Homo sapiens: one gene and its partners. The protein of the gene in region 1 purifies or fractionates together with the protein of each later gene. This does not show direct contact. Each region holds a gene or a part of one and is shown in the gene's direction. Other genes may lie near its edges. The genes, in order: LMLN, PRSS53 and NLN.

Region 1 (3,650 bases):
AATAGAGAGAGACTGTCTCAAAAAAACCCAAAATAAATAAATAAAATAAATAAAAAAAATAAACTTCACAATTAAAAATTTTACAATTTTTGCTTTAAATATTTATTTGTCTCCAAAGAAATTAACAGAAGAAAAGAAGTGTGTATAATTGTGTTGAGGATTCCCAAGACCACTCCAGGTTTGGTGATTGCTAGGTGGCCTCGCTAGATTCAGCTTGTCGTCATACTCACAGCTGAGATTTATTACAGTGAAGGCATACAAAGTAAAATCAGCAAAGGGAAAAGGATCATGGGACAAAGACTAGAGGAAATTAGGCAAAAACTTCCAAGAGTCCTCTCCTAGTAGAGTCACTTAGGACCTGCTTAATTCCTTCAGCAGTGAGTTGTGACAGCGTGCACAAAGTGTGGTCTACCAGGGAAGATTACCTGATTCTTAGAGTCCAGGGTTTTTATTGGAGGCTGGTCACGTAGACAAAATTTCAGCCACTGAAATTTCAGACTCCAGAAGCAAGCAAATGTTCAACATAAACCATATTGTTTCTGCAAATAGTTTAGACACAATGAGCCATCCTTATAACCTAGTGAAGTTTTAAATTACACTTCTAGATGCCAGCAAAAGGTCAACCTTGCAAGCAGGACTTCCTACAGAGAGCAGCAATCTCTGACCTGCTGTGTTGACTCTTCTGCACAATAGTCTTTCATATCTATTCACGTATTTACCATTTCCAATAGCTTTTATTTCTTCCTACAGAAACAGGTTACCCTTTTGTGTTATTTCCATTCCCACGAATAACTTCTTTTAGCATTTCCTGTAGTGTAGGTCTGCTGGTGATCAGTTTTCTCAGATGTATGTGAAATGTCTTTATTTCCTCTTCATTTTTGAAGGGTACTTTCATTGGATATAGACTTCTGTGTTGAATTTCTTTATTTTAGCCCTTTCCTGTTTATTTCATTGTCTTCTGTTCTTTATTGTTCTTCACAGAAAGTCAATGCCATTCGTACTTCTCTTCCCTTCCTATGTATAATGTTGTATTAGTTCTCACACTGCTATAAAGATACTACCTGAGACTGGGTAATTTATAAAGGAAAGTGGTTTACAGTTCCACATGGCTGGGGAGGCCTCAGGAAACTTACAATCATGGTGGAAGATGAAGGAGAAGCAAGGACCTTCTTTACATGGTGGCAGGAGAGAGAAGTACAAGCAGGGGAAATGCCAGAGGCTTGCTTATAAAACCATCAGATCTTGTGAGAACTCACTATCATGAGAACAGCATGGGGAAACACCCCCATGATCCAGTCACCTCCTTCCCTTGACATGTGGGATTACAATTTAAGATGCAATTTGGCTGGGGATGCAGAGCCAAACCATATAAAATGTGTTGTTTTTCTCTCATTGCTTTCAATATTTTATCTTTATTTTTAGATGTCACAAGTTTGCCTATGATGTACCTGGTTGTTGTTTGTTTGTTTTTGGGGACAAAGTCTCACTCTGTTGCCCAGGCTGGAGTGCAGTGGCACGATCTTGGCTCACTGAAACCTCCGCCTCCCGGGTTCAAGTGATTCTCATGCCTCAGCTTCCTGAGGAGCTGGGATTACAGGCATGAACCACCACGCCCAGCCTTGTTTGTTTTTTATCCTGCTTGAGGTTTAGTGAACTTCTTGGATCTGTAAGTTGATGTCTTTCACCAAATTTGAAATTTTTTAGCTGTTATTTCTTTCAAATATATATTCTGTCTCATATTTTCTCCTGTCCTTATAGGACTCTAATTACCTATCTGCTAGACTGCTTGGTACCCATTCTCTGAGTCTCTGTTCTTTTTTTTTTTTTTTTTTTTTTTTAGTCTTTTTCATTTCTCTTCTTCGGATTGGATAATGTCTAGATCTATCTTCAAGTTCACTGATGCTTCTGCCATCTCCAATCTTCTTTTAATTCTTTCTAGTGAATTTTTTTTTTTGAGACTGTCTTGCTCTGTCACCCAGGCTGTAGGGTGATGGTGCAGTCTTGGCTCACTGCAACCACCGTCTCCCGAGTTCAAGCAGTTCTCCTGCCTCAGCCTCTGGAGTGCTGGGATTACAGGTGTGCACCACCACGCCTGGCTAATTTTTGTATTTTTAGTGGAGACAGGGTCTCACCATGTTGGCCAGGCTGGTCTGGAACTCCTGACCTCAAGTGATCCACCCACCTCAGCCTCCCAAAGTGCTGGGATTACAGGCATGAGCCACCGTGTCCGGCCCCAATGAATTTTTCATTTTAATTGTTATACTTTTAAGCTCTAGAATTTCCATTTGGCTCTTTTTTCTTTGGTTCTTTTCATAGTGTCTCTTCTGAGGTTCACTATCTGCTTACTCATTATGTGTATGTTTTCTTTTAAGTTCCTGAACACATTTCAGCTGCATTAAACTAGTTGTTTAAATTCAGGTCCTCTTAGGGTCTGTTTCTATTCCCTGCTTTTTCCCCCATTGTGGATCTCATTTTCCCATTTTGTTCTCATTGCTGCTGATTTTTTATTAAATAATGGACACCATAGATAATATATTGTAAAGTCTGGATTCTGTTGTATTTCTCTGAATAATTTTTTTTTTTTTGTAGCTGGCGTTTAACTTAACTGTATTCAAAATTCCAAACTCTTATCTCCTGTTGTTGGCAACATTTATTCTTTGCTGGGTTTTATCGCATACATATGTAATTTCGTTGTCAGCCAAGGAATTTAGTGGTCAGTCAAATATTTGACTGGGTTTCATATGCAGATTTTGGGGTACCTTCTGTGGCTTCTTCTCTTGCAAGATTTCCTCTCTAACTTCTAATTTTCTGGTGATACAAGTTCTGAACATTTTGCTGTAGCTCCTCAAGCCAGTGAGGCTCTGACTTCCTGCCACTCCAAGAGACACAGATTAGGTAGTGCTCTCAAGCCAAAGTTAGACTTGCAAATCTCAGAGATACAATTCCTGTATTCCAAGAGTAGATTCTTCCAGATTCTGTCTTTCTCCCTCCCCAAAATACTGTCAGACAGTATATTTTGTCCGGACTTTGTAATGTGTTATCTGTGGGGAGGTTAGTCATGTAATGGATTGCTAAAATGTACCATATCCATTTGCTGTGCTCAGACATTTCTGATTTTTTTTTTTTTTTGAGACGGAGTCTTGCTCTGTTGCCCAGGCTGGAGTGCAGTGACAAAATCTCGGCTCACTGCAAGCTCCACCTCCTGGGTTCTAGCAATTCTCCTGCCTCACCCTCCCAAGTAGCTGGGACTACAGGCGCCTGCCACCATGCCCGGCTAATTTTTTTGTATTTTTAGTAGAGATGGGGTTTCACCATGTTAGCCAGGATGGTCTCAGTCTCCTGACCTTGTGATCTGCCTGCCTCGGCCTCCCAAAGTCCCAAAGTGCTGGGATTACAGGCGTGAGCCACCGTGTCTGGCCTCTGATGGTTTTTTAAGGGCCATAAAATAATCTGTTACCTGGAGATAGGTTGGAATGGAATGAGTAAAATACTGGAAGTAGGGTGTCAGGCCATCATAGCAGAGCAGGCAATACGTATTGTGAAAATCTGTGACTGTTACTATGTTATATTAATAGATCAAACGTAGTTTTCTACAAAATATAGAATTCTGTTTTCTTGTATACATCTGCAGAAATAGTATAAAAATAAAA
Region 2 (3,750 bases), on another chromosome or scaffold:
TTGGTAGCCTTGGAGGGTCAGGGCCAGGTTGTGAAGGTTTTTGTTTTGCCTATTATGCCCTGACCACTTACCTACATGCCAAGCACTGTTTAAGAACTTGTGTTGGCAGGGTGCAGTGGCTCACACCTGTAATCCCTGTACTTTGGGAGGCCAAGGCAGGAGGATCACTTGAGGCCAGGAGTTCCAGACCAGCCTGGGCAAAATAGTGAGACCCCTGTCTCTACAAAAAAAAAAAAAAAAAAAAATTAGCCAGGCATGGTGGTGTATGTACCTATAGTCCCAACTAATCGGGAAGCTGGCGGGAAGACTGCTTGAGCCCAGAAGGTTGAGGCTGCAGTGAGCCATGATCACTGCACTCCAGCCTGAGCAACAGAGCAAGACCGTCTCCAAAAAAAAACAAAAAACAAAAAAAAACTTGTGTTAACGTGTTAAACTCGTTTAATCTTTACAGTGATTTATGAGGTGGGTACTATTATTATCCCTATCTTGATGATAGGGACAGAGTGGCTAATTAGTATGCCTGAGATCACACAGCTACTGCAGGAGGCTCTCAGGATTTGAATCCACCTGGTCCATCTGGCTCCAGCATCTATATGCTTTTTTTTTTGTTGGTTTGTTTTTGAGACGGACTTTCGCTCTTGTTGTCCAGGCTGGAGTGCAATGGCACAATTTCGGCTCACCACAACCTCCACCTCCCAGGTTCAAGTGATTCTCCTGCCTCAGCCTCCCGAGTAGCTGGGATTACAGGCATGCGCCACCAGGCCTGGCTAATTTTGTATTTTTAGTAGAGACAGTGTTTCTCTATGTTGGTCAGGCTGGTCTCGCACTCCCGACCTCAGGTGATCTGCCTGCTTTGGCCTCCCAAAGTGCTGGGATTACAGGCGTGAGCCACCATGCCCGGCCAGCATCTATAATATATGCTAAACCTTACCCACAGCTGCCTCTGTCTTGGGGTCAGGGTTCTTGAATGGTCTGGGCCAGCCTGAGTTAGGAGTGGGAAGAGGAAGAGGAGGCACGCGCCAAAGTGTTCTTCCCGCCTGACCGAGTCCTCTGCGCCTATGAGGAAGGTGGGCACCGCTGTCACCCTGTTTCCCAGGAAGCCAGCAGGCCCAGGGAGATACTGGGATTTGCCAAAGGCTCACAGCGAGCAAGCAGCAGTGGGTGCTGGCTCCTCACCACTCAGCCTGGCACACACTGTCTCTGAGCAGACCTGGGAGAAGGCATGTGAAACCCACCTAGCCCTGGCTGGAAGAGAAGTGGGGGAGTGGAAATGAAAAGTGGGGACTGGGAGGAGCTGCCCACGTGCCCTCCATGGTTCCAGGATGGCACTTTCATGCTGGGAGTGAGCTTGCCCTGTGCCAGGCTGTCATTGAGACGTTTTCCATTCAACAACTGTTTCTCAGACAAGGCACAGGCAGGTTAGCTCTCCCAGGCCACTCAAGTAGTAAGGAAACAGATTTAAACCCAGACAATTTGGCTCCACGGCTAAGGCCCAGAGAGGGGTGGTGACAAGCCTAGGGTCACACAGCCACAGCCCCAGAGCTAGGAACTGCTGGCTAGGGCAAGCAGACAGCTGAATCCTAGCCAACTGGAGGTGGAGCAGAGGTGGAGCCAGGGAGACCCAGGTGGCCTCTCTCAGAGTGGAGCACAGGTGGCAGAGTGGCCCGGGGCAGCATGAAGTGGTGCTGGGGCCCAGTGCTGCTCATCGCGGGTGCCACAGTCCTCATGGAGGGTAAGCCGCCATGTGCTGGGGTATGGGTGTGGCCTGGTGGGGGCTCAGGGGCCATCTCTGCCCCAGCAGTCCCTGCTTCTTGGTGGGGGGACCGCCTGTGGGCGACAGTCCACCAGTGGGGATGTAACTCCGTAGGACTCTGTGGGGTGGTATATGTGGCCACCTGTGTCAACATGGATGAGATTTTCTCGGGCCAGCTGCAGTTTGCGTTGGCGGGGCCTGTGGTCTTGTGTGTGTGTGAGGTGCTGCCTGCGTGTGTCCTGTGCCTGCCTCCCCCTCGACTTCCACAATGACGTCAGGCAAACTCTGGGCTCCTCTGGCCTCAGTTTCCCTTTCTTTTCATCCATCCTCTGGGCAGCCTGGCTCAGCTGTCTCATGGGGTGCCTGTGTGCCTGTGAGGGGCGGTGGGCAGGGGCCCTCTCTCTGGCGGGCTCTCAGACAGTTTCTGGGAAGGTGGGGAAGACTGAGTCTCTAGACCAGGGTGAGGTAAGTCTCCATTTCTTGGGGCCCTCCCCACTTGGAAATGATGCAGGCCTCTAATCCTTCCTCTTAGGCCTCTGCTGCTAAGAGGACAATTAAGCTAATGCTCTCTACACACACAGGCCGCCTGGCTGACTCAGTGGCGGGGGCAGGAGTTGGGGGTTCTGAAGCCTGGAGGAGGGCTGGCCTACTCCCAAGCTGAACCCCAAGCCCCAGAGTGCTGAGCACAGCTGAAGGAGAATTAATTACTGAGTGTGCACACTGAATAGGTTCCAATAAAAGCTGTCTCGGCCTCATATAAATATTTTCATTCTGGGAGGGGCTGGTAAGGTAATCAGAGTCACAGGCAAGGACCCTGGGCCCGCCCCCCAGCCCATCCCCTCTCCTCCCCAAAGCTAGGCAGGCCTGGAGTCCCTGCATCTTACCTGTGTCTCTCTCTTCCCAGGTCTTCAAGCCGCTCAGCGTGGTAAGGTCTGGGGACACGGGGCCTAGGTCTTACTTGGGTCTGGGTTGGGACTGGGGTGAGGTCAGGACAGGTATCTGCTGTCAGTGTGACTAACTCCTTTCCACAGCCTGTGGACAGCGTGGCCCCGGCCCCCCCAAGCCTCAGGAGGGCAACACAGTCCCTGGCGAGTGGCCCTGGCAGGCCAGTGTGAGGAGGCAAGGAGCCCACATCTGCAGCGGCTCCCTGGTGGCAGACACCTGGGTCCTCACTGCTGCCCACTGCTTTGAAAAGTAAGTCATGGCTGGGGTCAGGCAGGGTCTCCGGCTCTGGGGAGTGGACAATTTGTCTCAAGCCCCACAAGGCTAGTCCCTGCCTCTAGAGTAATAATAAAGAACCATTTACTGAGAATCTGCCATGTACTGGGTACATATTGTCAAGTTAATTGTAACAACCACCTTTCATGGTAGAAGATTTACAAATCAGAAAACTCAGGTTGCAAGGGAATGACCTCGCTTAAAGTCACAGACTGAGGCCGGGCACAGTAGCTCACGCTTGTAATCCCAGCCCTTTGGGAGGCCACGGAGGGAGGATCGCTTGAGCCCAAGAGTTCAAGACTAGCCTGTGCAACATAGCAAGACCATGTCTCTACAAAAACTGTAAAATTAGCCAGGCATGGTGGTGCACGCCTGTAGTCCCAGCTACTCACGAGGCTGAGGTGGGAGGATCGCTTGAGCCTGGGAGGTCAAGGCTTGTAGTGAGTCATGGTCATGCCACTGCACTGCAGCCTGGGCGACAGGACGAGACCCTACCTCAAAAAGAAAAAGCCGTGGAGTGCTCTCTGCTATCTTCCACCTACCTGTGGGGTCTCCCATGGTGTCACTGTCTACCCTTGCACTCAGCAGCCTGGACCTTGTCCTTCCCCTTCCAGGGCAGCAGCAACAGAACTGAATTCCTGGTCAGTGGTCCTGGGTTCTCTGCAGCGTGAGGGACTCAGCCCTGGGGCCGAAGAGGTGGGGGTGGCTGCCCTGCAGTTGCCCAGGGCCTATAACCACTACAGCCAGGGCTCAGACCTGGCCCTGCTGCAGCTCGCCCA
Region 3 (3,650 bases), on another chromosome or scaffold:
AGAGTGATGAGTGCCCCAGAAAGGCATGGATTGAGTAAACAAAAGTAAGCAATTGGAAGGAGGAGCTAGGGAGAAATTGCTTGTTTAATGGATCTCTTCATTTTTAATGGAAAATTCTTTAAAAATACTTCTGCTTTCAAAGCTTAAGGCTTGTTTTTAGCTTAGACTGATTGTATTTTTCAGTTCTGGTTTTCTGATGATTGTTCCAACTTTGTCTACAATTCAAAGGAATGAAATTACTACTGTAATATAGAGTATTTGGGGGTTGTTTTTCACACTGTTCAGCTGCTGTGTTTTATTTTCACTTGACTATGAGGTTATTCTAACCCCTCATTCAGAGGAACAGTTGAGTCTGATTCTGCCTTAAGTTTTCGTGACTCTTAATAATTATTCATTGCATATGTACTTTCATTGAGTTCTTTAAAAAAATTCTCTGTGTTTGCTTTCTAGACTGATTTTGCACGATTTAGCGGAACAAATGTGGAAACTGACTTTGTAGAGGTGCCATCGCAAATGCTTGAAAATTGGGTGTGGGACGTCGATTCCCTCCGAAGATTGTCAAAACATTATAAAGATGGAAGCCCTATTGCAGACGATCTGCTTGAAAAACTTGTTGCTTCTAGGCTGGTCAACACAGGTATGACTTCTAATTTTAAAAAGGAAAATAAATTAGAATCTCTTAATGTAGAATTGCTGTCACCTTCTTCTGTAGAACTTATTTTCATTTTAAGTGGTATCCCAACCGTGCTAGCATGAGGAGTGAAGAACATTAAATATATTGGAATAGGAAACCCCGGAATTTTGTCTGAGGCAAAAAACCACATCTCCTTTTAAATCTTAAGTAGAATGAGATGTCCTGCTCCCATTTTGTGAGTACTACTGGAATCTGTTTTTGGAATCTACAATCTTGTGATAATAAAACACACAGTTCTGTCTTCTTCAAAACATGCCCAAACATTCTTATGTTATTAGGTCTTCTGACCCTGCGCCAGATTGTTTTGAGCAAAGTTGATCAGTCTCTTCATACCAACACATCGCTGGATGCTGCAAGTGAATATGCCAAATACTGCTCAGAAATATTAGGAGTTGCAGCTACTCCAGGTATGTAACTACTATGAATTGAGTTCATTTCTCTGTGAAGCACAGGGCGTTCTCCTAACACTGCAGGGGAGATGGAGTTTGTCAGACAGATTACCTAATTGTTTCTGATTTCTGTAATCAGGCCATGACTTTCAGATAAGCATACTATGTCCTTATGAGTTATCCCGTCCAAATGCGCTTGAAGGAAAGGTGGCTCCAGATCTGCAGCATTTTAGTGTAATCAGGCATGAGCAGTTGGCCTCCGCCCCAGAGCTGGGAGAGCCATTCGTGTTGGCAGCACACTCTCAGCTCCTCCCTCCCTGTATGCATCATGACTTCCCTGTGATTTTCAGGAAGAAATTGGCAGAAGGGGAACTTTTTAAGTTTTTTTTCCTTTACATATAGTATTTTGTTTATTTTTTCCATCCCCTCAAGCATTTATCCTTTGTGTTACATACAGTCCACTTGCACTCTTTTAGTTATTTTTAAATGTACAATTAAATTATTATTGACTATAGTCATCCTGTTATGCTATCAAGAAGGAGCATTTTCAGGCCTGGCATGGTGGCTCACACCTGTAATCCCAGCACTTTGGGAGGCTGAGGCAGGAAGATCACTTGAGCTCGGGAGTTCGAGACCAGCCTAGGCAACATGGCAAAACCCGTCTCTACCAAAATACAAAAATTAGCCAGGTGTGGTGGTGTATACCTACAGTCCTAGCTACCCAGGGGGCTGAGTTGAGAGGATCACCTGAGCCTGGGGAGGTTAAGCCTGCAGCGAGCCATGATTGCACCACTGCACTCCAGCCTGGGTGACACAGTGAGACCCTGTCTCAAAAAAAATAAAGGGTATTTGGGGGGAGAAGCATGAACTTCACCTTGTTTCTGATTCTGAGATCAGTTAAAGCATTTGACTAGCAGTTTGTAATCTGAGATTTATGGGACTCATGCATGGGCGTGTTTATATTTGTATGTGTATGTTTTAAGCCAATATATAGTTGTGCTTTTATATGTAGTTGGTAAGGTGGATTTTTTTTCACCAAGGAAATTGTTATTAAAATGAGTCAGCCACATTTATAGAGAGAATAAAGATAAGAATGGTCCGTTGAGTCATTCTAGGCTCCCCACATAGTAAGCCATAGTGCACCTTTGTGTCACAAGCCTTTGTGTCGCAATTACATTTTTAAATGTACAATTAAATTATTATTGACTATAGCCATCCTGTTATGCTATCAAGAAGGGACATTTTTAGGCCTGGCATGGTGGCTCACGCCTGTAATCCAGCATTTTGGGAGGCTGAGGCGGGAAGATCACTTGAGCTCAGGATTTTTGACAAAATCCTATATAAAGTAGCCCTACAGGTAGATTGAATTGGTGAAAAGTTCTTTTTCAGGCAAGGCACGGTGACTCACGCCTGTAATCCCAACACTTTGGGAGACCGAGGCAGGCAGATAGATCACTTGAGGTCAGAAGTTTGAGACCAGCCTGACCAAAGTGGTGAAACCCTGTATCTACTAAAAAATATGAAAATTAGCCGGCGTGGTGGCATGCACCTGTAATCCGAGCTACTCAGGAGGCTGAGGCAGGAGAATCCCTTGAACCTGGGATGCTGAGGTTGCATTGAGCCGAGATCTCACCACTGTACTCCAGCTTGGGCAACAGAGTGAAACTCTGTCTCAAAAAAAAGTTCTTTTTCAGTAATTATCAACCTAAAATAAGTGCAATTCTGAGACATTTTAGATATAAAGAGGTGTGGCAAAGAGTAGGGTTAATATTATTTTTCAAAACACATACATGTTTAAGAGATAAGAAAGGACTGATTTCAGTTCTAAAACACTGAGCTATCTGGTGGGTGTGGACAAAGCCGCTGAAACTATCCTTAGGCATTCCAGAGCTTGGGGCCGAAACCAGCTCTGAGGTTGAGCCATTGATAGATGTTTATAAACATCTTGGCCAAGAGGACACATCAGCCCAAGGAGTACTAGAGGTGAGATCATGTCATTCATTCTCTCCTCCCACAGCTGGCCTCCTCAGAGGGAAACCTTAGCTAGCTGTTAACCTGATCATTAACGTTTGCTATCACATTGATTGAAATGTATCTTTTTTTAAAGGCACAAATATGCCAGCTACCTTTGGACATTTGGCAGGGGGATACGATGGCCAATATTATGGATATCTTTGGAGTGAAGTATTTTCCATGGATATGTTTTACAGCTGTTTTAAAAAAGAAGGGATAATGAATCCAGAGGTATAGTATTATTTTTCTCCTTTTATTAATTTTGTAGTTGCTCCCTCCCCTTTAACTCCTAGTGTAAAATATTGGTCACATCTAGATTTTACTGTAAGAGGCTTGGTAACAGCTTTTACCTCTGAGGCCCTGCATCTTTCAAATCATCATACATCATTAAGTTGCAGTATACAAGTGATTAATTCTATAGTTTAAAAAAAACTAGTATATTTTCTTGCTTATTAACATTCTGATATATTACATAATTAAAAATTCAAAGCTTTGTTTATGGATTTGAGAATCTGTAGCTGCTAGTTTTGACATGTACCATACAACATTTTAGT

The links.
Region 2: the proteins of LMLN (region 1) and PRSS53 purify together in Homo sapiens (affinity purification with mass spectrometry; one large-scale study listed by BioGRID and IntAct). This does not show direct contact.
Region 3: the proteins of LMLN (region 1) and NLN purify together in Homo sapiens (affinity purification with mass spectrometry; one large-scale study listed by BioGRID and IntAct). This does not show direct contact.

What each region holds. Positions count from the first base shown.
Region 1 is NC_000003.12:197,970,131-197,973,780, forward strand, and holds part of LMLN (leishmanolysin-like peptidase isoform 1 precursor), read left to right. Parts: intron 1-3,650. UniProt on the Homo sapiens protein: Metalloprotease.
Region 2 is NC_000016.10:31,086,734-31,090,483, reverse strand, and holds the start of PRSS53 (serine protease 53 precursor), read left to right. Parts: upstream 1-1,540; 5' UTR 1,541-1,674; coding exon 1,675-1,732; intron 1,733-2,657; coding exon 2,658-2,678; intron 2,679-2,784; coding exon 2,785-2,947; intron 2,948-3,585; coding exon 3,586-3,750. UniProt on the Homo sapiens protein: In vitro can degrade the fibrinogen alpha chain of as well as pro-urokinase-type plasminogen activator.
Region 3 is NC_000005.10:65,809,065-65,812,714, forward strand, and holds part of NLN (neurolysin, mitochondrial), read left to right. Parts: intron 1-450; coding exon 451-637; intron 638-972; coding exon 973-1,101; intron 1,102-3,190; coding exon 3,191-3,327; intron 3,328-3,650. UniProt on the Homo sapiens protein: Hydrolyzes oligopeptides such as neurotensin, bradykinin and dynorphin A. Acts as a regulator of cannabinoid signaling pathway by mediating degradation of hemopressin, an antagonist peptide of the cannabinoid receptor CNR1.